Homo sapiens: one gene and its partners. The protein of the gene in region 2 interacts with the protein of the main gene of each other region in a pairwise test. Each region holds a gene or a part of one and is shown on either strand. Other genes may lie near its edges.

The links. The genes of interacting proteins can lie anywhere in the genome.
Region 1: the proteins of FOSL1 (region 2) and KIFC3 interact in binary tests that used the Homo sapiens proteins (3 or more experiments, as listed by UniProt).
Region 3: the proteins of FOSL1 (region 2) and CREB5 interact in binary tests that used the Homo sapiens proteins (3 or more experiments, as listed by UniProt).

The regions. Positions count from the first base shown.
Region 1 is NC_000016.10:57,764,492-57,771,514, forward strand, and holds part of KIFC3 (kinesin-like protein KIFC3), read right to left. Parts: intron 6,947-7,023; coding exon 6,707-6,946; intron 6,210-6,706; coding exon 6,036-6,209; intron 5,465-6,035; coding exon 5,317-5,464; intron 5,235-5,316; coding exon 5,104-5,234; intron 2,495-5,103; coding exon 2,383-2,494; intron 1,150-2,382; coding exon 968-1,149; intron 1-967. UniProt on the Homo sapiens protein: Minus-end microtubule-dependent motor protein. Involved in apically targeted transport. Required for zonula adherens maintenance.
Region 2 is NC_000011.10:65,897,382-65,905,267, reverse strand, and holds the start of FOSL1 (fos-related antigen 1), read left to right. Parts: upstream 1-4,879; 5' UTR 4,880-4,928; coding exon 4,929-5,027; intron 5,028-7,886.
Region 3 is NC_000007.14:28,814,495-28,821,517, forward strand, and holds part of CREB5 (cyclic AMP-responsive element-binding protein 5), read left to right. Parts: intron 1-3,576; coding exon 3,577-3,685; intron 3,686-4,266; coding exon of another isoform or gene 4,267-4,271; exon of another isoform or gene 4,272-4,490; intron 4,491-4,621; coding exon 4,622-4,785; 3' UTR 4,786-7,023. UniProt on the Homo sapiens protein: Binds to the cAMP response element and activates transcription.

The DNA of each region.
Region 1 (7,023 bases), on a different chromosome or scaffold from region 2:
CTCCTGCTCTCTCTCAAAGAGTGCTCAGCACAAGGAAGGTGGAGGCCAGCACATGCCTGGGGCCTCTCTGGCCTGGGCCTGCCTGCCAGCCATCAGAGGATGGGGGCAAAGATAGAACCAGACATGAGAACAGGAGGGCACAGGCCTGGCAGGGCTGGCAGGTTGGTCTGGGCAGAGATAAGGGAAGAGTGGACACTGAGAACACATGGTTCTCATACAGCCTCAGGGGGTTGGGGGATTCCTAGGAAGGCCCAGGGGACTGATACAGGAGGGTATTCCCGGATGGGGAAGATGGGCAGGGTCATGAAGATGGATGGGGCCATGTGGGTGGCCATGGGGGTGGGAGGGGCTGTGATGGTGGGAGGGGCCTGAAAGTGGGTGAGGCCACATGGTGGGAAGATGGGAGGGGCCTGAGGGTGGGTGGGGCCATGCAGATGGGAGGAGCCACAGCATGAGGGTGGGATGGGCTGTGATGGTAGGAGGGGCCTTGGGAGTGGGCAGGGCCATGCAGTGGAAGGGGCCACCTGAATGGGAGGACCCAAAGCCATGGTGGTGGGAGGGGCTGTGGGTGAGGCCATGTGGTGGAAGGGGCTGTGGATATAGGAGGGGCCACATGGTGGGAGGAGCCACAGCTGAGAGAATGGAATGAGTTACGATAGTGGGAAGGGCCTCAAGGGTGGGCGGGGCCACACGGTAGAAGGGGCCTTGGGGACGGGAGGAACCACAGCCATGGGAGGGGATGGGCTGTGTCTGGATCTCTCCTTCCTAAGGAGGCTTTCAAGGGCTTCAGTCTTAACTTCCCACCCTCTTCTGTCCTCCAGAGGAAGGAGCAGGACCCTGGCTCCCCACTTCTGATTCCTGCACCCCCCACTCTTAACGCTTCTTCCTGCCCAGCGCCCCCGCTCCCTGTGAGTCCATCTTTCCCTCTCTCCCTTGCTTTCCCTTTCCCGCATGGGGCCACACTCACGTCCTGCTGCGAGGCCTGTGGGGAGAAGACCTTGTCCAGCTCGAAGGACACAGGCTTGCCCTTGTGCAGCAGGTGGATGATGGAGTCGTCGTCGGCATCGAAAGTCACAGCATTGGTGGCCTCAGGTCCTTCCCCATCCTCTTTGGTGACTGGCCGGACACGAGCAATCACTCGGATGTTCCCTGGATTGGTTGGGGATGGGGAAATGGGTCCAGGCCATGTCAAGACCAGTCTCCATTCTGGTCCACTGGTGTCCCAGGCAGACTAGTTGACCTAGGAGTCCCCTGACTTTTAAGCACAGCCCCCTAGGGGAAGGGGGCCCACAAAGCTGTTATCCGTCATTCACACTATAGTATGAATTCACTTAGTACATTTCTTCTTGAACAGACCAGTTGACTGGGGTGGAGCTCTGCCTTGGGGATGGGGAGGAAAGGTCAGTTGTGGGGCTCAAGCACTGCACCCCGTCAGGGTGAGACACCAGAACGGACACTCTTTTTCTCCCTGGACTTCAGTTTCTTCATCCAGACAATGAGGGGCTTGGGCCCCAATGAGCAAAGAGCCTTGTCCTGAATGGCAGGACAGGGCTTAGGAATCAGATGGGCATATAGGCCCAGGCAGCAGGTGATGACTGGTGGTGTATCTGAGGGCCCAGATAGTGGGGCAGCCACAGGGGTATCTGGCAGCATGAGCTGGTCATGCCGCCATCTACTTCCAGCCTTTGTTGGGATCCCTGTGCTCTTGGAATGAAGAGGAAACACCCCCCACTGCCAGCATGGCCCACCTGCCCTCCCTTTTCACCCATCCGTTCCAGCTCACTGTCCAGGTCTCAGCTCTAACTTTGCCTTCTCTGGGAAGCCCCTCAACACACTTGCCTGTCCCATACCCAGGAAAGCCTGTCTCAGCCCTGGAAGGGGGCAGGGTTGGGGTTCCCTGACAATCATCATTGTTGATTCTCACACTAAAGTGTGCACCGGGAGGCAGTCTGTGGGGCCACGACCATAGCCTCGGGCTGGAACGGCACCTGGCACAGAGCAGGCACTCTAGAGCTCCATGCAGTGAATGGTGGAGTCTCAAGCTTGACCAGGCCCCAGGTCAGAATAAGCGGCTTTCCAGCTGCCACCAACCCAATGCTGCAACACCACACCCCTCGGCTACCCAGGGCCTGGGGAGTCACCTGCCCAGGCACTGGGGCCAGGGCTTCTGAGCTGGACAGACTCAAGTTCAAATCCAAGGCAGACCATTTAATATCCATGTGGCTTTGAGCAAGTTCCCTGCCTTCTCTGTGCCTCTGTTTCCTTATCTACAGAGATAGGATTAGAATAGTGCCTCAATGGTGGGGTGAGCTCCAAGCATGACTGCCAAGCCAGGTCGAGGACCCCGAGGCCAGCGCCCACCCCCAGCCCTCCTGCAGTCACCTTTCAGCCGCACGAGCTCATTGTGGCACTTCTTACGCAGCTGCAGCTCGCGGCGGTACTTGCGCAGCAGCTCCTGGTTGTTGCTGTTGACCTCCTCGATGGCCTGGCCTATCTGGTGGGGGGTGCACACCACTGTCAGGGGGACGGCTCCATCAGCCTTACCGGCCTGACTGCCCACCCCTGAGGGGTGCTCACTGCCTCCTGCCCCTGGCTGAGTACCTGACACACGCTGTCACATGTCAGACTGTCCCAATCACCCCTCTGGGTAGGTACTGCTACCATCCCCATTTTACAGATGATGAAACTGAGCCGCAGACACTAAGCTGACAGCTTGAGGCTGCTCTGCTAATAAGCATAGAGCCAGGACTCAGCCCTCCACACCACAGCACTAGTGCTTGACTATGTGATTCAGCCAGACTCAAATTCCAACTCTGCCCCTGAGTAGCTGGGGACCTGAGACCACTGGCTCAATGTCTTTAAGCCTCAATTTTCTCATCTGGAAAGCAGGGATAATACCATCTAACTCATGAATCTGTAAAGATCTCCCAGTTACATTTCACAGGTAGAAAAAAGATGCAAAATCACACATACAGTATCACACTGTACACAAATCACACATCCCCTTTCTGGAGTAGAAGGGAAGTGTATACAGTGTATACAGTCTTCCCTTAGTAACCGTGGAGGATACAAAAATCCACAGATGCTCAAGCCCCTGATATAAAATGATATAGTGTTTGCCTATAACCTACACACATCCTCCCATATACTTTATTTTTTTTGAGACAGGGTCTTGCTCTGTTGCCCAGGCTGGAAGTGCAATCACAGCTCCATGGATGTGGTGGAAACTCATTGTGAGTGGTGTTATCTTGGCTCACTGCAGCCTTGACCTCCCAGACCCAAGCAATCCTCCCACCTCAGCCTCCCGAGTAGCTGGGACTACAGGTGCAGGCAACCACACTCAGCTAGTTTTTTTATATTTTTTTGTAGAGATGGGGTCCCACTATGTTGCCGAAGCTGGTCTTGAACTCCTGGGCTCAAGTGCTCCTCCTGCCTCAGCCTCCCAAAGTGTTGGGATTACAGGTGTGAGCCACTGTGCCCAGCCCCTCCCATGTACTTTAAATCATCTCCAGGTTACTTATAATATCTAATACAATGAAAATGCTGGGTAGGGGCTGGGTGCAGTGGCTCATGCCGGTAATGCCAGCACTTTGGGAGGCGGAGGTGGGCGGATCACCTGAGGTCAGGAGTTCAAAACCAGCCTGGCCAACATGGTGAAGCCCAGCCTCTATTAAAAATACAAAACAAACAAACAAACAAACAAAACTAGCCCGGCATGGTGGCACACGCCTGTAATCCCAGCTATCCAGGAGGCTGAGGCAGGAGGGTCGCTTGAACCCGGGAGGTGGGGGTTGCAGTAAGCTGAGATCCCGCCATTGCACTCCAGCCTGGGCAACAAGAGTGAAACACTGTCTCAAAAACAAAAAAATGCTGTGTAAATAGTTGTTATATGTTATTTTTTATTTCTATTATTTCTAATTGTTGTACTGTTAATTTTTTTCAACTATTTTTGATCTGTGGTTGTTTGAATCTGGGAATGCAGAACCTGTGGATGGGGGAAGGGCCTACCATATATTCTCACACACACACACACACACACACACACGCACAATTGGCTTAAGCATGCTCAGAACAGTCGGGGGAAATGCTGAGAGGCCACATTGGAAGAGTTGGGTGGGTGGCAGAGAGGCCTTTCCTATTCACCTGATGCCCTGCTATGGAGTTTGACTTTTCACCACGTCCATGTATTACTGATATAGTCTTTTAAAGGAGAAGAACTATATTCTGTTCCCAAAATATATTAGTCTTTGCAAAGCTATCATACAAATTCAAGGAGCTAACGGCTATAAACAGCTCGACATGTAGGAGGCACTTAAGAGGCACTGGTTATTCTCATATGTACAAGTACAGCTTGAAAGAATTAAGTTAAACCTAACAGAGGTAAGACTGTATCGGCCAGTCATGGTGGCTCACACCAATAATCTCAGCACTGCGGGAGGCCAAGGCAGGAGGACTGCTTGAAGCCAGGAGTTCAAGACCAGCCTCGGCAACATAATGAACCCTGTCTCTAATAAATAATTTTTTTAAAAAATACGTATGTAGCATGTTTTTTGTTTGTTTTTGAGATAAAGTCTCGCTGTCACACAGGCTGAAGTGCAGTGGCATGATCTTGGTTCACCGCAACCTCCGCCTTCTGGGTTCAAGTGATTCTCCTGCCTCAGCCTCCCGAGTAGCTGGAATTAACAGGCACCTGCCACCCATGCCCAGCTAATTTTTGTAATTTTAGTAGAGACGAAGTTTCGCCTTGTTGGCCAGGCTGGTCTCAAACTCCTGACCTCAAGTGATCCGCCTGCCTCGGCCTCCCAAAGTGTTGGAATTACAGGTGTGAGCCACCGCGCCTGGCCTGCATGTTTGAAATATGAAGTTATCTGTAACATGTTTGGTTTAAAGAATCATAGTAAGACAAATAGCCGAATGCCTGCCCTGAGCAGTCTAGTTTCAAACAGGGCCTATAAGGGCAGCAGTAAGTGTCATGGGGGGTGGGGCAGGGGCTGCTGTCTGAGCGGCTTTGTCTGAGCTTTGGAGGGACGCCCTGAGTGGATGTCGTGCCTCTCCCAGTGCACCCCCTTAGCCTGGACCCTCCCACCCACTGCCCTCGCTCACCTCGGCCTTGACACTCCTGAGGGCCTCCTGCAGCAGCAGTGGGAAGCCGCGCACCTGCCGCTTGAGCCCATTGTAGTCGTTGGTGAGGGTCCGCAGTGCCGGCTGCAAGGTCAGCAAGTTGGTCCGGACGCCTATGGGGACACTCGGGCTGTGAGGCGGGAGGGGATGAGGGGCCGCGGCGTGGGGCAGACAGGGCCCAGCTGGTCAGCTCACCTGCTAGATTCTCGTGCACAGCCTTCATCTCCACCTGGGCTCTGGCAAAGGCCTCCTCAATGGCCCGGTTCTTGTCCTCTTCCAGGGACTGCATCTCCTCCAGCATCTGCCCATGGGCCCGCTCCAGCTCTGACTCGTACATGGCAATCTGGCCAGACCAGGAAAAGGCTCAGTACCTCGAGGTGCGGGAGAGAGAGGGGCAGGTGCCACACCGAGAAAGAAACTGGTCACCTCCCATGCACATGAACACACATGCACACACACATGTGCACACCCAGAGGGGCAGAATGGCCTTGTCTCCCTCCCCCTACAGGGCTGTGAGCTCTGGGCATTGGCTCCAACACCAACCCAGTGCTGAGCACACATCAGGTGCCCAAGCCACGTGCCCTCAGGAAGGTAGGAGAGGGCCTCTGTGATGACAGTGACAAGTGCCATGTAGAGCTTACTGAGCACAGCCTGTGTGCTGGGCCGTGGGCACAAAGCTTCTTGGGATGACGTTCCTGAGTCCCCACTGTGAGGTGGGTTCTGGGACCAGATCGTGTTATAATAGATGAGGAAAAGGAAACCAGACAAAACTTGCCCTGGGTCCCGTGGCCATCGGGGAGAGGAGGGACTGGACCCCGTGTCTGTGGGGTACCCAAATGTTTAACCGATGCATTGGCCCAAGGGCCTGCCTCTGGCTTCCTGGCTGGGCATGTGCCCCCACACAGCCTGGGTACCTGCGCCCGGAGCCGCGCGGTCAGCTGGTGTGAGCTCTGCAGCTGCTGTTCCATCTCCTTCAGCACCTGCCTCTGCATAGCCACCTGCTCCTGCAGGTGCTGGTTCCGGGCCTGGGACTCGCTGAGGGCCTGCTTGGTCTTGGACGACTCCACCTCCACTGTCTTGATGACATACTGCAGGGTGAGGGAGGAATGGCACGTGGAGCCAGCGGGCACCGTACCTCACCCAAGAGCCTGAGACGCAGCAGGCCAGGGGAAGGAACTCTCGGGAACATCCCACTCAGAAACCAGAAAAAAACTAGAGGAGCCTTGAGGTCCTGGCTTTCCAGAAAGCTGGGGGGGTCTCCTGGAACCTTCTCAGCTTAACAAGAGGCTACTATGAGCCTGGCTGGGGCCCCATCCTGGGTACAGACAAGAAAGGCAAAAAGACGAGGGCAGAATCCAGGGGCTGCGCTGCATCTGTGCCTGGCACCTCAGCTGTTGGATACCTACTCGGTGCCTGGCCCTGGATACAGGAAGGGGAAGGGGCAGGACCAAGCACAGAACTGGAATGATTCTTCCACCCACACACACCTACCTATTCACCAGGACAAGCCCCCCTTATGGGCTAGCCCTGCCCCAGGTGCCAGGGGCCTTGGGCTGAGGCACAGATCAGGTGGGCCAGGGCTCACCTTGACAGGTGGGGACTGGGCCCGCAGGCTGGCAATGGTCTCGTGGCTGTCACGCAGGCGCCGACTAAGCCGCTCCTCCTCCTGTGCCTTCTCAGCCAGGCAGTCCTTGAGTCGCAGCTCCACCTCAGCCAGCCGGTCGGTCTTCTGCTGCACCTCTAGGTTCAGCTCTGACAGCATGCCTTTGCTTTCCGCCATCTCCAGCTGCAGCTGGGACAGCTTGTCACGGAGCTGGGCGCTCTCCTGCAGCCATTGGGAGGCACTGGATGAGTGCAAGGGACAGGCTCACTGTGAGGAGCTGGGGTGGCCCTCCAGGACCA
Region 2 (7,886 bases):
TCTACTAAAAGTACAAAAATTACCCGGGCATGGTGGCACATGCCTGTAATCCCAGCTACTTGGGAAACTGAGGCAGGAGACTCAATTGAACCCAGGAGGTGGAGGCTGCAGTGAGCCAAGATCGTACCACTGCACTCCAGTCTGGGCAATGGTTGGGAGCAGTGGCTCACACCTGTCATTTCAGCGTGAAGAGAGGTGAAGGCAGGAGAAGTACTTGAGGCCAGGAATTTGAGACTAGCCTGGGCAATATATTGAGACCTCATTTCTACAAAAAAAAAAAAAAAAAGTAAAGATTTGAATAGATATCTGTCCAAAAAACGCCCAGCGCGGTGGCTCATGCCTGTAATCCCAGCACTTTGGGAGGCCAAGGCAGGCGGATCACAAGGTCAAGAGATCGAGAGCATCTTGGCTAACACAGTGAAACCCCTTCTCTACTAAAAGTACAAAAAATTAGCCGGGCGTGGTGGCAGGCGCCTGTAGTCCCAGCTACTCAGGAGGCTGAGGAAGGAGAATGGCGTGAACCCGGGAGGCGGAGCTTGCAGTGAGCGGAGATCGCGCCACTGCACTCCAGCCTGGGCGACAGAGCAAGACTCCATCTCAAAAATAAATAAATAAATGGTTATATATACTCAGCCATAGAAATGAGCAAAGTACTGATACATACTATAACATGAATGAGCCTTGAAAATGTTATGCTGTGAACCCAGGAGGTGGAGCTTGCAGTGAGCAGAGATCATGCCACTGCATTCCAGCCTGGGCCACAGTGCGAAACTCCGTTTTTAAAAAAAATAATAATACTAAGAAAAGAAAATGTTATGCTGGCCCAGTGCGGTGGCTCACACCTGGAATCCCAGCAGTTTGGGAGGCTGAGGCAGGAGGATCACTTGAGGAGTGCAGGAGGCCGAGGCTGCGGTGAGCCAAGATTGGGCCACTGCACTCCAGTATGGGCAACAGCAAGACTCCATCTAAAAAAAAAAAAAAAAGAAGAAGAAGAAAGAAAGAAAAAAAAAGCAAAAATGTTATGCTAAGTAAAGAAGTCAGACAAAAGACCACATAATATATGAATGAGTCCATTTATTTGAAATGCCCAGAATGGGCAAATCCATAGCGACAGGAAGCAAATTAGTGGATACCAGGGGATGAGGGAAGGGGGAAATAGGGAGTAATTACTTCATAGGTGTGGGGTGTTTTCTGGAGTGATGAAGTTTTGAAACTAAAGAAAGGTGGTGGTTGTACAACATTGTGAATGTAATAAATGGCATTGAAGTGTACACTTTAAAGTAGTTAATTGTTTGTTACATGAATTTAATCTCAAGTAAAAATGTAAACTTCAAAGGCCAGGTGCGGTGGCTCACACCTGTAATCCTAGCACTTTGTGAGACCGAGGCAGGCAGATTGCTTGAGCCAAAAAAAATTAGCTGGGCGTAGTGGCACGCGCCTGTAGCCCCAGCTACTCGGGAGACTGAGGAGGGAGGATCGCTTCAGCCCAGAAGGTTGAGGCTGCAGTGAGCTGCGATCCTGCCATTGCACTCCAGCCTAGGCATCTAGGCATCAGAGTGAGATCCTATCTCAAACCAAACAAACAAACAAACAAACAAAAACAACATAGACTTCAATTAAAGAGTGAATAGAAACTGATAAACATAAATATCACCTCCAATGCCCTGGCCATGCTGAGAATGCACAGGGTGCCAAGCCTCCTCTCCTTCACTGCAGCCCCAAAAGGCAGGGATTCTCTGGGGCTCAGAGATGGGAAGGGACTGAGCCAGTCTTACAGAGCCACCAAGGCACAGTGGCAGGGTCCCTCAGGCCTCCCTGCCCCCAAACTTCCAGCGATGGCTGTGGCCCCCTGGGGTTCTCTCCTGGCCTCCCTGGGTGGAAGCTGGTGAGGTCAGAGGCCAGGAACGTTTCTGCAGCCACAAGGCGGGGGTTAGTGACTGAGGAGGTTGGAATGTGCTCCCTCTGAAAGGACCTCCTTGTGGCTCCAGTGACGGTTAGAGCAGGAAGAGACTTTCAAAGTCATGTAACACACACACACACACCCCAGACCTGAATCCCTGCTCCCTCAGCTGCCCCAGTGGCCCCAGCATCCACTGCTTGGGGGCGGTGGGGTCAGGTGCAGGGTGATGTTTCTGGAGCAGGCAAGTGAATGCAGTCAAGGCTGACCTGTGTCACCCCTCCCCTGGTTACCTGTGTCACACTTGACCTGTCCAGCTTGGGCTCTGCCAAGAAGTTGAGGTATCAGTGTGTGTGCACATGTGCTGTGTGAGTGCCTTCATGTGTGATCAGTCCCAAAGGCTCTCACCCCTGGGTTGTTTTGTTTTGTTTTGTTTTTTGACGGAGTCTTACTCTGTTGCCCATGCTGGAGTGCAATGGCGCAATCTTGGCTCACTGCAACCTCCGCCTCCCGGGTTCAAGCGATTCTCCTGCCTCAGCCTCCCAAGCAGCTGGGACTACAGGCATGGGCCACCATGCCCAGCTAACTTTTGTATTTTTGGTAAAGACGGGGTTTCTCCATGTTAGTCAGGCTGGTCTCGAAATCCTGACCTCGTGATCCACCTGCCTCAGCCTCCCAAAGTGCTGGGATTACAGGCGTGAGCCACGGCACCCAGCCTATGTGTCAAATTCTTACTATGTGCTGTGCTAAGCATGTGACATTACTTGTGTCCTCCAACAACCCTTGAGATAGTTATCATTATGTCTCCATTTCACAGATAATGAAAGAGGCTCTGAGAGATTGTGTGCCTCACCTAGGTCACACAACTGGTGAGCAGCCTAACCACATTCAAACCCAGACCCCAGAGCTGTCTGACCCCAGCACGGGTGTTCTGTCCACGGATCATACTGCCTCAAAAACACTCTCCTCTCCTTTCTCTCTCTCTTTCTCTCTCTCTCTCTCTCTCTCTCACACACACACACACACACACACACAGAGATGATGATGACAAGAGGGTGACAAGCATTGGGTCGCTCAAAGGCAAAGGAGAGGCACCAGGCTGGTAACCACTTTCTGAGTGCATAACACTTTATAGCTTACAAAGCATTTTCACATCTGTGATCTCACTTGATCCCACAACAGCTCTGTGAGATCAGCAGGGAGGCCCAGTTGAAGGAAGGTGACCTGCCCAGTGTCACACAGACAGAAAATGGTAGCTCTGGGACTAGAACCCCAGGGGCAATCTGGACTTCCTGGCTCTAAGTCCTGAGTGCACCCACAGGCTTCTGGCCTGTGTTCCCAAGGAAAGTAGCCCAGAGGGCAAAGCTAGAGCTGATGAAATGGAAGGACCGATGGAGAAGCAGGAGAGCCCAGCCCTCTCTTGATCTATTTACTTTGAGTCTTGCTCTGTCCCCCAGGCTGGACTGCAGTGGCGCAGTCACAGCTCACCGCAGCCTCAACCTCCCTGGCTTAAGCCATCCTCCCGCCTCAGCCTCCAGAACAGCTGGGACCACAAGGCAGGCGTACCACCATGTCCAGAAAATTTTATAATTTTTTGTAGAGATGGGGTCTCAAATGGTTCTTTCTGCCTTGGCCTTCCAAAGTGCTAGGATTACAAGCATGAGCCACCACACCTGGCCCCAGCCCTCTTTCTGTAGTCGTGTGACAACTGACAGCTCAGTACTCCATCTGGGCCTCAGTTTCCTCATCTATGATGGAAGTAATCAGAGAGAAGCTTTGGGATGGTGCCCAGCACTAACATTCTGGATGTGCGACAAGGTGTCTGTGAAGGTGTAAGGGCTTTGAAAATCTTGGCTGAGCCTGGGCTTGGAGTGCCCACGGCTGTGACTTGGCAACCTGTGCCAGCTACTCACTTAGCGACTTCAAGCAATTCATTTCAGCATCTCCCAGCCTCAGTTTCCCCATCTGTAAAACAGAGATGAGGATGATACCTGCCTCACATTCACTCACCTTTGACATACTCTCCAAACAAGTCTGGTGGCCACAAGCCTCCGAAAGGCACTGACCGTAATGAAGATGGCGTTTATCAGACCTCAGGACACCTGTAGTGGCCCTGAATTAAAACTCGTTATAGCTCCTGAAATTATCCTGAGTAATACTATTATATTGCATTTTATGTGGGGTTAGTTCAAAGCATTACCTTATCGCAAACATTTAAAATATACCACCCAGCCTGGGCAATACGGCGAGACCCAATCCCTACAAAAAACACAAAAATTACCTGGGTGTGGTGACGCGCGCCTGTAGTCCCACTTACTTGGAGGGGGCGCTGAGGCAGGAGAATCCCTTTAGCTCAGGAAGTTGAGCCTGCAGTGCGCCGAGATCGAGCCACTGCACTCCAGCCTGGGTGACAGAGACCCGGTCTCAAAAATATAAAGTAAAATAAAATATGCCACCATTTTTGTAACCCTGGTTTGTCATTTATTCACTTTTCATATACTCGAAGCCTTAAAACAAGGCCAGTGGAAAGACCTCACTCCACGAAGCTTTGGGTGGCGGTTGGCGTGGCTCCTAGAGATGTGATTCTTTCGTGCTATTTTGTGGGAGCAGAAACGGAGGTTAGCCCAGGCCTCGAGAGGGCTGGGGCGGGGCGCGGGCTCTGGCAGGTGCGTCAGTCCGCAGGGGAACCCGGGGCTCCACCTGGGCGCGGCGAGGAAGTTACACCATGTATGGGCAGCTACGTCAGGGGGGCGGGCCCGCAGCCTCCGGGGAACGCCGAGCCGGGCCCATCCCGGTGAAAAGGCTGCAGCCGGACTTGGGGAGGCGTCGCCAAGTTCGGGACCGACGGGCCAAGGCGGCGCGTCTCGGGGGTGGAGCCTGGAGGTGACCGCGCCGCTGCAACGCCCCCACCCCCCGCGGTCGCAGTGGTTCAGCCCGAGAACTTTTCATTCATAAAAAGAAAAGACTCCGCACGGCGCGGGTGAGTCAGAACCCAGCAGCCGTGTACCCCGCAGAGCCGCCAGCCCCGGGCATGTTCCGAGACTTCGGGGAACCCGGCCCGAGCTCCGGGAACGGCGGCGGGTACGGCGGCCCCGCGCAGCCCCCGGCCGCAGCGCAGGCAGCCCAGCAGGTGAGTGGGGCCCGACGCCGGTGGTCCCACGGGAGGACCGCGCGTGGGAGGCCGGGGTCAACTCCCGCACGCTCCGGGACTGGAGCGGGGAACCGGAGTCGGGGCCGGGCTGGGGGCTGGGGCGAGGATCCTGCCCCTCGCCGTCCGGGGCCAGTTGCCCCCACCGCGCAGCGGGCAGCAGAGACCCGCGAACTCCCCTTCTCCCAGCCGCCCCCTTCTCCCTCGCCGTCCGCGTCCGTCCCTCCGTCTCCGTGCCCGCTTTCTCTCCTCCTGCCCACCTCTGACTTCTGCGTCCACCCTGCTTCAGAAGGGGCGTGGGCGCCTAGGGTGGTCGCCTCGAAGGCTAGGAGGGTCTCTCCGCTTCGGGCTGAATTCCTGGGATCTGGAGTCTGGGCTGGGGTGAGGGTCCCCACACGGGAGGGAGGCGGGATCCGTCGGGAGAGCAGCTGGGCCAGGGTGGGAGTCCCGGCCCGGTCTGCGACCCTCCGCGTGTCCGTCCGTCTGTCTGTCCTTCGCCCCTCCGTCGCCAAGTCCCTATCGTTTCTCGGCCTGGGGAGTCCAGGGGGGTCCGGGCAGTGGAACCTGCCAGGTCCCCGGAGACCGGCCCTCGATCCCTTTGCCGAATGCGGCGAATAGAGACCTCGAGGTTCCGGGACGTGCGCGGGGTCAGGCTGCGGGCGACTCTCGCGACCCCACTCTCAGCCCCTAACGGCGCCCGCTGCCCGCCGGGGGGCACCCGGGAGGCTGCAGGTGCCCATTTCCTGTCGAGGGGCTGCGAGCACGTGTCGACAGGGGAGGGAAGGAGGGGCGTCCGTTCCGCCGAGTCACGGCGGCCGAGTCACGGCGGCTGAGTCACCCGGGGCGTCCCTCCCTTCCTGGCCTGGAGCGGCCCGGGCCCGGGAGTGGGAGATGCCGCCGGCGGTGCCTCGGACCCGGAACTGGGGTCACTGGGACGCCGGGCCCGCAGCGCTTGGGCTCGGGCTACCGCTGTCGGGACTTGCCTGGGCTTGTGGGCGCTTCCCGGACGATTGGGCGCCCACACCCAGGGCCCAGCGGCAGAGCTAGAACCCACTTCTCCCAGAACACTGAGCCCCATCCCAACCCACTCCTCAGATAGCTGGCTGATAGAATGGGAACAGGGACGTTGTGCTGGGCGCTTGCTACATCATTTACCATATTTCACGGAATCGAAGACCTCATCGATTGAAAAAAAAACCCACTATAACTTTATGCCACTAATTTTCTTTCCTTCTCTTTCTTTTCTTTTTTTTTTTTTTTCTGAGACAGGGTCTCCCTCTGTTGCCCAGACTATAGAGCAGTGGTGCAATCACAGCTCACTGCAGCCTCAGCCTCCTGGGCTCAAGCAATCCTACTGAGATCCTAGCTGGGAAGCGACCTGGCCACAGGCACGCACCACCACACCCAACTAATTTTTTAATTTTTTTGTAGAAATGAAGTCTCACTGTGTTGCCCGGTGTGACCTCAAACTCCTGAGCTCAAGTGATCCTTCTACCTCAGCCTCCCAAAGTGCTGGGTATGAGCCACCATGCCTAGTCCACTAAAATTTTTTAAATTGCCAATTAAACTATGATTTCAGAGCTATTAAAGGGTACTTCTTAACATCAGTGAAATCCTGTAATCCTCACCTGTAACAATATTAAAAATGAGGAAACTGAGGCACATGGAGGTTAAATAACTTGCCCATGGTCACACAGCCAGTAAGTAGCTGAGAGCTGAGATTAGAATTGGGACAGCCTGCCATGCCAGGTGGCTAAAGCCTGTCATCTCAACACTTTGGGAGGCTGAGGTGGGTGGACTGCTTCAGCTCAGGAATTTGAGACCACCCTGGGCAACCTAGTGAGACCCTGTCTCTACAAAAAAATTTAAAAAAAATTAGCCAGGCCGTGCGCGGTGCCTCATGCCTATAATCCCAGCACTGTGGGAGGCCAAGGCGGGTGGATCACCAGAGGTCAGGAGTTCAAGACCAGCCTGGCCAACATAGTGAAACCCTGTCTCTACTAAAAATACAAAAATTAGCCGGGCACAGTTGTGGGCGCCTGTAGTCCCAGCTACTCGGGAGGCTGAGGCAGGAGAATTGCTTGAATCCAGGAGGTGGAGGTTGCAGTGAGGCGAGATCGGGCTACTGCACTCCAACCTGGGTGACAAAGCAAGACTGTGTCTCAAAAAAAAAAAAACAGAAAAGAAAAAAAAAATTAGCCAAATGTGGTGGTGCACGTCGGTAGTCCCAGCTACTTGGGAGGCTGAGGTGGGAGGATTGCTTGAGCCCGCAGGTCACTGCACTCCAACCTGGGTGAAAGAGTGAGACCCTGTCTCAAGAAAAAAAAAAAAAAAAGCAATGGAATGGCCTGAACCCAGAGCAGTGACTCTTTCCTGCCTCAGCCCCTCTGCACTGGGCACCTGCCACTTACCAGACTGTCGCACACATTCTCTCACCTGATTCTCACAGCCTCCCCTTGAGCTGGGAGCTGTAATTATCCTCTTCGTGCAAACGGGTGCAGGAGTGGGTAAGAGCCCAGCTGCTGGGCTCATTGGCTCTGTGTCTGCGGACAACTGTTCTCCCGTCTGAAAATGAAGATACTAGGCTGGGCGCTGTGGTTCACGCCTGTAATCCCAGCACTTTGGGAGGCCGAGGCGGGTGGATCACCTGAGGTTGGGAGCTGGAGACCAGCCTGGCAAACATGGTGAAACCCTGTCTCTACCACAAATACAAAAATTAGCCGGGCATGGTGGTGCACGCCTATAATCCCAGCTACTCAGGAGGCTGGGGCAGGAGGATCACTCGAACCTGGGAGGCGCAGGTTGCAGTGAGCTGAGATCGTGCCACTACACTCCAGCCTG
Region 3 (7,023 bases), on a different chromosome or scaffold from region 2:
GGTGCTAGAACTGGCTCCCTTATGAAAGATAAGACCTGAATTATAAGCATATTTGAGCATATTGAAAGTAGCTAAGTAATGAATAAAAGTCAAGATGGACTCTTTCATTGGATAATTGGGTAATTTGCTTTCTCAATAGAAGGTGACACAGAATTGCTTGTAGAATAAAAAAAAATTCTTTCTGGAAGGAACTTTCTGGAAGTAGTTCAACCATCGTGTTTTATACTTGGTTGGCATGGCAGCTTGGGAACTCAAACCCTATTATTCTCAACTCTCAAGTGAGAGTTCCTTTTCCTACTGGATGCTGCCCCATGAATTTCTATGGCTTATGTGGTTATTAGGCCTTTATTTAGTCCTTGCAGCATCATAGTTATATGTATATGGATAAACAAGAAGCTGATTGCCCTTCTCTACTGAGGACATTAATTGGTGTTCATTTTCCCACAATAACATGGCTAAATAAGTATTAACATGTTACATTAAGAAATATGTCCTGCCAGGCACAGTGGCTCATGCCTGTAATCCCAGCACTTGGGGAGGCTGAGGCTGGAGAATCACTTGAGGCCAGGAGTTCAAGAGCAGCCTGGGCAAAATAGCTACACCCCATCTTTGCAAAACATTTTTTAAAATTAGGTGGGCATTGTGGCACATGTCTCTAGTCCCTGCTACTCAGAAGGCTGAGGTGGGAGGATTGCTTGAGCCCAGGAGGTAGAGGCTGCAGTGAACTATGATGGTGCCACTGTAGTCCAGCCTGGACGACATAGCAAGACCCTGTCTCTATAACAATAAAAAAGAAAAAAAGAATATGTTCATATTCACATATATCTTTAAATGATGGTCAGTTGTCTCAATATTCTCAGGGTTCTGCATTTTTACAGATCCTCACAACACTCAGGCCTTTGGTCTCTGTACTTACAACATATTGCTTTATTAATAAAGTGTTTTGCTGTTCATAGACTAAATGCCACCAAAGTCATATACTTTGTATGGGGTTTTGGTGATAGGCCAGGGCACCACATGTGCTGACTAGTGCTCTTTTTATAGTAAAACAGACTTATGAAAGCAAAAATTTATTGTGAAACTGTTTGGGGCATGCCAAATATCATAGGCAGTTAGCTCTTTGCTAACTGTAGAAACCCAGAGAATAGAATTGAGTGTTTTCTTAGGGAAGGGGCAATGAACACTTTGTGCCTGGGAGATCGAATGCTGCCAAGAAAGGGTTTCATTGCCCAGGACATAGTGGGGGAAGAAATGGAGACTAAATTCAACCTCTCCAAGATGGCCACAGGCAGGGGTGTTTTTTCTTCCAAAAGTATAAGAAAGCAAGAGAACCCAGTTTTGTTTTTAATACTTTTCTTGTTTGTTTTCTAGGTAGAAAAGTGTGGATTCACTAGAAATTAGAACTTGATTCCATTTTCTAAGATCCATTGTCTACATTATCTGCAGCTGAGAGCTTCTACTCAGGGGGCAAGGTGTCTAGCAGTTTCGATTTCAGAAAAGTGTTATTTCTGTAGTCTAAATGCAAATAATATGACATTTCCTTCTGAAGCAAATATATACGCACACACACACACACACACACACACACACATAAACACATCTCTGTTTCCTTTCTTGGTTTTTGTTTGGTTGTTTTTTTTTAACCAGAGATTGCCTTCATTTGATGGTCTAGAAGTGACTTTCTTTTATATGTGCTATTTTGAGCAGAAGGAGAACTGAGAAAAAGAAGGAAGGCCATCTGAATTTAGATAGGTGTAAAGTCAAAGAGGAAGAAGTTAGTGTTTAAGGCTAAAATAAATTGTCCTGTAAGTTATCCCACTGACCTTGGAATTGACAGGGTCACTTTTGGTTTCCACAGAGCCCCTTATCAATCACATTCATTTGGAGTTGGGAGGTACAATTTGCCTTCTTGTATGTTCTGAGATGTAAGAGCAATTTTCTTGTTTGATTAAGTGATTTATTCATCATTAAGGCTAATTTCCCAAATAGTCATTTTTATTTTGTAAAAATAAAGTTTGGAAGAGAAAGGGAATGAGATGAGATTTGTAGATGAGATTTTTATTATTTTGTCATTGTTTTATTTTATTATTTTTGTTATTAATGTTACTCAATATGTGGTTGCTTATAATTTATTTCACCAAGAAATTTAGAAATGGGAGATATTCCTTAAAACAGATTTCAATTTTTTTTAGCGCAACTTCTAGAATCCCAAACATACTTTCCTAGGTGATAAATACATGGCTGAAAAGCCAAGTTCATATTGAAAGTGTAGGTACAACTTAATGACAGCAATGTTAATCGTCCTTTTCGGTGTGCATGCATTTTTTAAGTCTCCTACATGTGAGGTATAATGCCTGGCAGCCACAAATAAACCTTGACCAAAGAGAGGATATTATTGATCACAATTTTTAAGTGGCTTATTCAAGATAGTGCTACATTTACGTTCACTTTTATCAAGTGGAAGCATCTCGGAGCTACCATCTATTTTATGTTTATATTTGTAGACAATGGGTGCCAAGTTCATTATTCTACAAAGCTATGAGCATGCCTTTGTGAATTAATATTAACAGATAAAGTAGAGATCCGAGGCACTTACATGAGTAAATAAGAAGAAAACCCCACACCATCCACAATATCCTGATATTGAGGGGGGAAAGAGTATTTTATAGACCGAAATTGACCAAATAATCAATGAACTCAATCAAATTAATTCAATCATGGCCCAAAACTTCATTGCCTCCTTGCCACCCTGAGCTGACATCATCCACCTGCAGCTGACCAACATGTGTACTGTATGCTTCCATACCTCCTGCTCAGTGGGCATCAGGCAGGTAGATGTGCTCTGCTCAACAGTATCCCATGAACAGTAATTGAGTAGGAGATGGTGGGGAGAGCAGGGATTCATGACTGAAGGTCAATTTATTTTCAGATATTCTTTTTAGATTGAGCAACACAGACTTCTTTTGGAAAATCTGATGGTAGATGAGTCAGCTTATTCTGATTGCATTTCAGGTGGAAGCCACAAATCCTACCACATAATTCTGCCCAATGTGCGCCTCATATTCACATTCTCAATTGGATGTAAACCTGAGCTTGTGAAGGTTACAATAGTTAAATGTATTAAGTCCTTATTATGTGCTGGGTATTGTTCTGTTTCCCATCTATTACTGTATTTAATCCTCATAGTAACACAAATAATGTACTCTTCTTATCCCCATCTTATAACGAGGTTGCTGGAGCTCAGCTGGGTTATGTAATCTACCTAGGGTCACACAGTCAGTGTGGAGTAAGGATTCTCACCTGGCTTCGGTTCCCATCACCTAAGGGTGTGGTCTAGCCTTTTAATAAGGTTCAGCTCTTGAGTTAAAACCTAAGCTCTGCAGAAAGCCCCTGGGAAATGTGAGGGCCAAATTAAAGGTAAGCTACAAACTTTCAGGTGAACCACATTAAATAATATTCTTAATGTCATTTAGACATAATGGAAGAGTTTGCCAGTTTTGTTGTTGAAAGTGCACAGGGCTGTGGGTTTGTATCCTCTGGTCTTCTCAACATGGTTTTAATACATATCTCTTTTAGAATGAAGTGTCTATGTTGAAAAATGAGGTGGCCCAGCTGAAACAGTTGTTGTTAACACATAAAGACTGCCCAATAACAGCCATGCAGAAAGAATCACAAGGATATCTAAGTAAGTCGCCGACTTTTTCACTTTTCTTTAGTGTCCAATATTTTTTGCCACTAAGTTTGCACTGAATTTGATTGAAAGAGCAAAAGTAAAGTGTAGATTGTACTTCCAGGCAGATATACAAGAATTCTTGAGTGGCTTCCAGACTATTCTTCCAAGGGGATCCCTTTTTTCTGACCCCTGTGCAACACCATGCCCACCACCTCCTGATAATTTCTGGCCACTCCTTCCCTAGCATTTCAAAGTATCAAAAGAAATACCAAATTCCAATTTTGCAGCCAGTAAGAAAAGAGCCAGCTGAAGCCCAAGTACCAGTGGCCTAGCAGTCGCCTTCAGAAATCTGTGGTCTGGGAACCAGGCCTTGGGTGAATCATATCCAGTGCCTCCAGAAACACTGCATGTTACTCACTGGGCTGAAAAGCTAGTGACTGGCCTCAGTTTACCAATATGTAAAATGATCCCTTCCTTCAGACCCCAGTTTCTGCATCTGGAATGCCAGTTGGTTAAATGATAGTTGAGTAGGGATGGTGGGAGGAGCAGGGATTCATGGCTGAAGGTCAATTTATTTTCAAATAATTTTTTAGATTGAGCAACACAGATTCTCCCACCACATGTGAGTATTTTTCCACATTTGATATACGGATGGCTATTTAAAAAGACAAAATGGGGAAGTTCACATATCCATGACTGAAACACATCAAATCATTTTACTGATACAGAAAGCATGGCTTTGCTCGTAGATATAAACTGGAAAGGCATAGCATTGTGACAACAGTTGAAAATAAAGTTTTGAAATTAACTTTCAGAAGAAAATGTGTGAAACTTCTATTTCAAGTAAATATCTAGTACAGTTTCTCTGAGGAGTCCACAAGTCCATACAAAAAAGACCTATATTGGTGTGTGTGTATGTGTGTGTGTTGTCTTTTTTTTTCTCCCTAGGTCCAGAGAGTAGCCCTCCTGCTAGTCCTGTCCCAGCTTGCTCCCAGCAACAAGTCATCCAGCATAATACCATCACTACTTCCTCATCGGTCAGCGAGGTGGTAGGAAGCTCCACCCTCAGCCAGCTCACCACTCACAGAACAGACCTGAATCCGATTCTTTAAAATGCACCATCAGACCTGGCCTCCAAGAAGAGCTGTAGCGTACCATGCGTCCTTTCTTTTAAGGGCATTTTTAGAATTAACTCAGACCTGGAAGACTCCTCAGTTCTTCAAAGACTGGCTTTCATTTTTATAGTTATTATGGAAATGTTGTCTTTTATACTTAGTTATATAAGAAAAAAGGGAGTTATGCAATTAATATCTATCAGCTTGGGAAACGCTTTGGTGCTTTTCTCCAGTTTTCTGGTACCAGTTACTTGTTTATAAACTGAACCTTTTCTGTATATAGCCATGGTTTCATTCTTATCAGTCCAACCCTTTGCCTGAAACATTGAATCTTGTTAAACCACAGCTTTTAGCTAAAATGAGGTATACCTAGATGTCAAGTAAGACAGATCCAAGGTAACTGGGTAGGAAATCTTTTGACATCTTAACTCATGTTGAGTTTGTGCTGTGGTGTCACCAGAATTCCAGATAAACACACAGCCTTTCCCATACCTTTTTTTTTCTTACTATAAAATATTATAAGATCCATTGATGTCCAAATAATACCACCAAGCATCTCTTCACCTCTCCTCCTCTTGGTCCACTTGCTAATGCCCAGTTTTCTTCTCCATTTCCACTTTTTCTTAGGCTCCCTATTTACTATTCATTTTGACTTCCTTCTGTTTTATTTTTTTCCCTTTAGCATTGCATGTGAATAAGAAAATAATGTTTAAAGAAAAAAAAAAAAAAGCAAACCTCCAAAACGTGGACCTAACCATTGCTTCACTTACACTTCACCCACAGCTGGAGTTCATTCAACTCTTGCTTTTCACAAAATAGTAACCAGGAGATGTTTAATGTGCCTGATTTAATGTTTTTAATAATCACAGCAAATGAAAGGTGGTTTAGTTATAAGTGAAGCATGGTTGAATACCAGCTGGGGAGACACTAGGGAAGGGAGCTTTGTAAGCCTTGATTGCGAAAGTCCAAATTTTGATGTGGGGCTATAACATGACACCCTTGGATTGCGACTGGTTTTATACGGCCTGCCTATAACGTTGAAAATCCATGTACTACATAATAATTCAGAAGGGCTCTATTCACTACACAGATTACATTGTTCAATCATCAGCTGCTAATAGCCTAAGATTTATTTTTTTTTTTTTCTTAAGCCTATGGAACCGGCTTTGCTGTTCTGGGGGGTGAAAATAGACTAACTACTGGAGAAACAAAGAGAGAAAGAAAACCCAGTGTTTCCATAGGGGCACTTTTAGCCTTCCCACAACAGTTAAGCACTCTTTGACTGCTGAAGGAACCCCATGGATGAGGTGCAGGCTACTTCACTCTTTTTTTTTCTTTTTTGAGACAGAGTCTCACCTATTGCCCAGACTGAAGTGCAGTGGTGCGATCATGGATCACTGCAGCAGCATCCTCCGAGTTCAAGCTATCCTTCCACCTCCGCCTCCTGAGTAGCTGGGACCACAGGTTCACATAACCATGCCTGGCTAATTTATTTTTACTTTTATTTTAAAATAAAAGATGAGGTCTGTCTTATGTTGCCCAGGCTGGTCTCAAACTATCCTACTTCTTCCTCCCAAAGTGTTGGGATTATAGGTGTGAGCCACTGCACCCAGCCTACTTCACTCTTCTGAATTATTCTGATTTATTTTCAACAACTTTTGTGAACTTGCCCGTGATACAAAGCAGATAGTCCCTGAACCACAGTCGTGCCTCCTTGAAACAAGCCATTCTACTGTGCTAATGTTTTAATATCACATCTCACAAATAACAGGGGTGAATGTTTCTCTCTAGCAATCTAGGCAGGTGCTGGTGTTTCATCTCCATTTGAATGCTTGACCTCTTAATGTGTGTGTGTGTGTGTGTGTGTGTGTGTGTGTTCATGGGTTTTAAAAGAACAGTATTTTACAAAAGGTGTAGCTTTTATAAGAGTGCAGAAAAGGGAAGGATGTGTTTTTTTCTCTCACTATAGTATAAGAATCTATTTTGGAGAAAAAAAGAAAATATGAGGGTCTCGAAGCATGATTTTTATATAACTAGTTTCAGTTTTATCTAATAACTTACTTTTTAAATCAATATTTATCAACAATCTTTCCTTGTATGCAGTGCTTTCAAAAGATGGTTTTGAGTGTCCAGTGAAACTTATGACTTGGATATATGGTTGAAGAATCAAAACAAAAGCAAAAAAAAAAAGCAAAAAAAGAAAAGAGAAAAAAAGAAAAAATGCAAATGGAATAA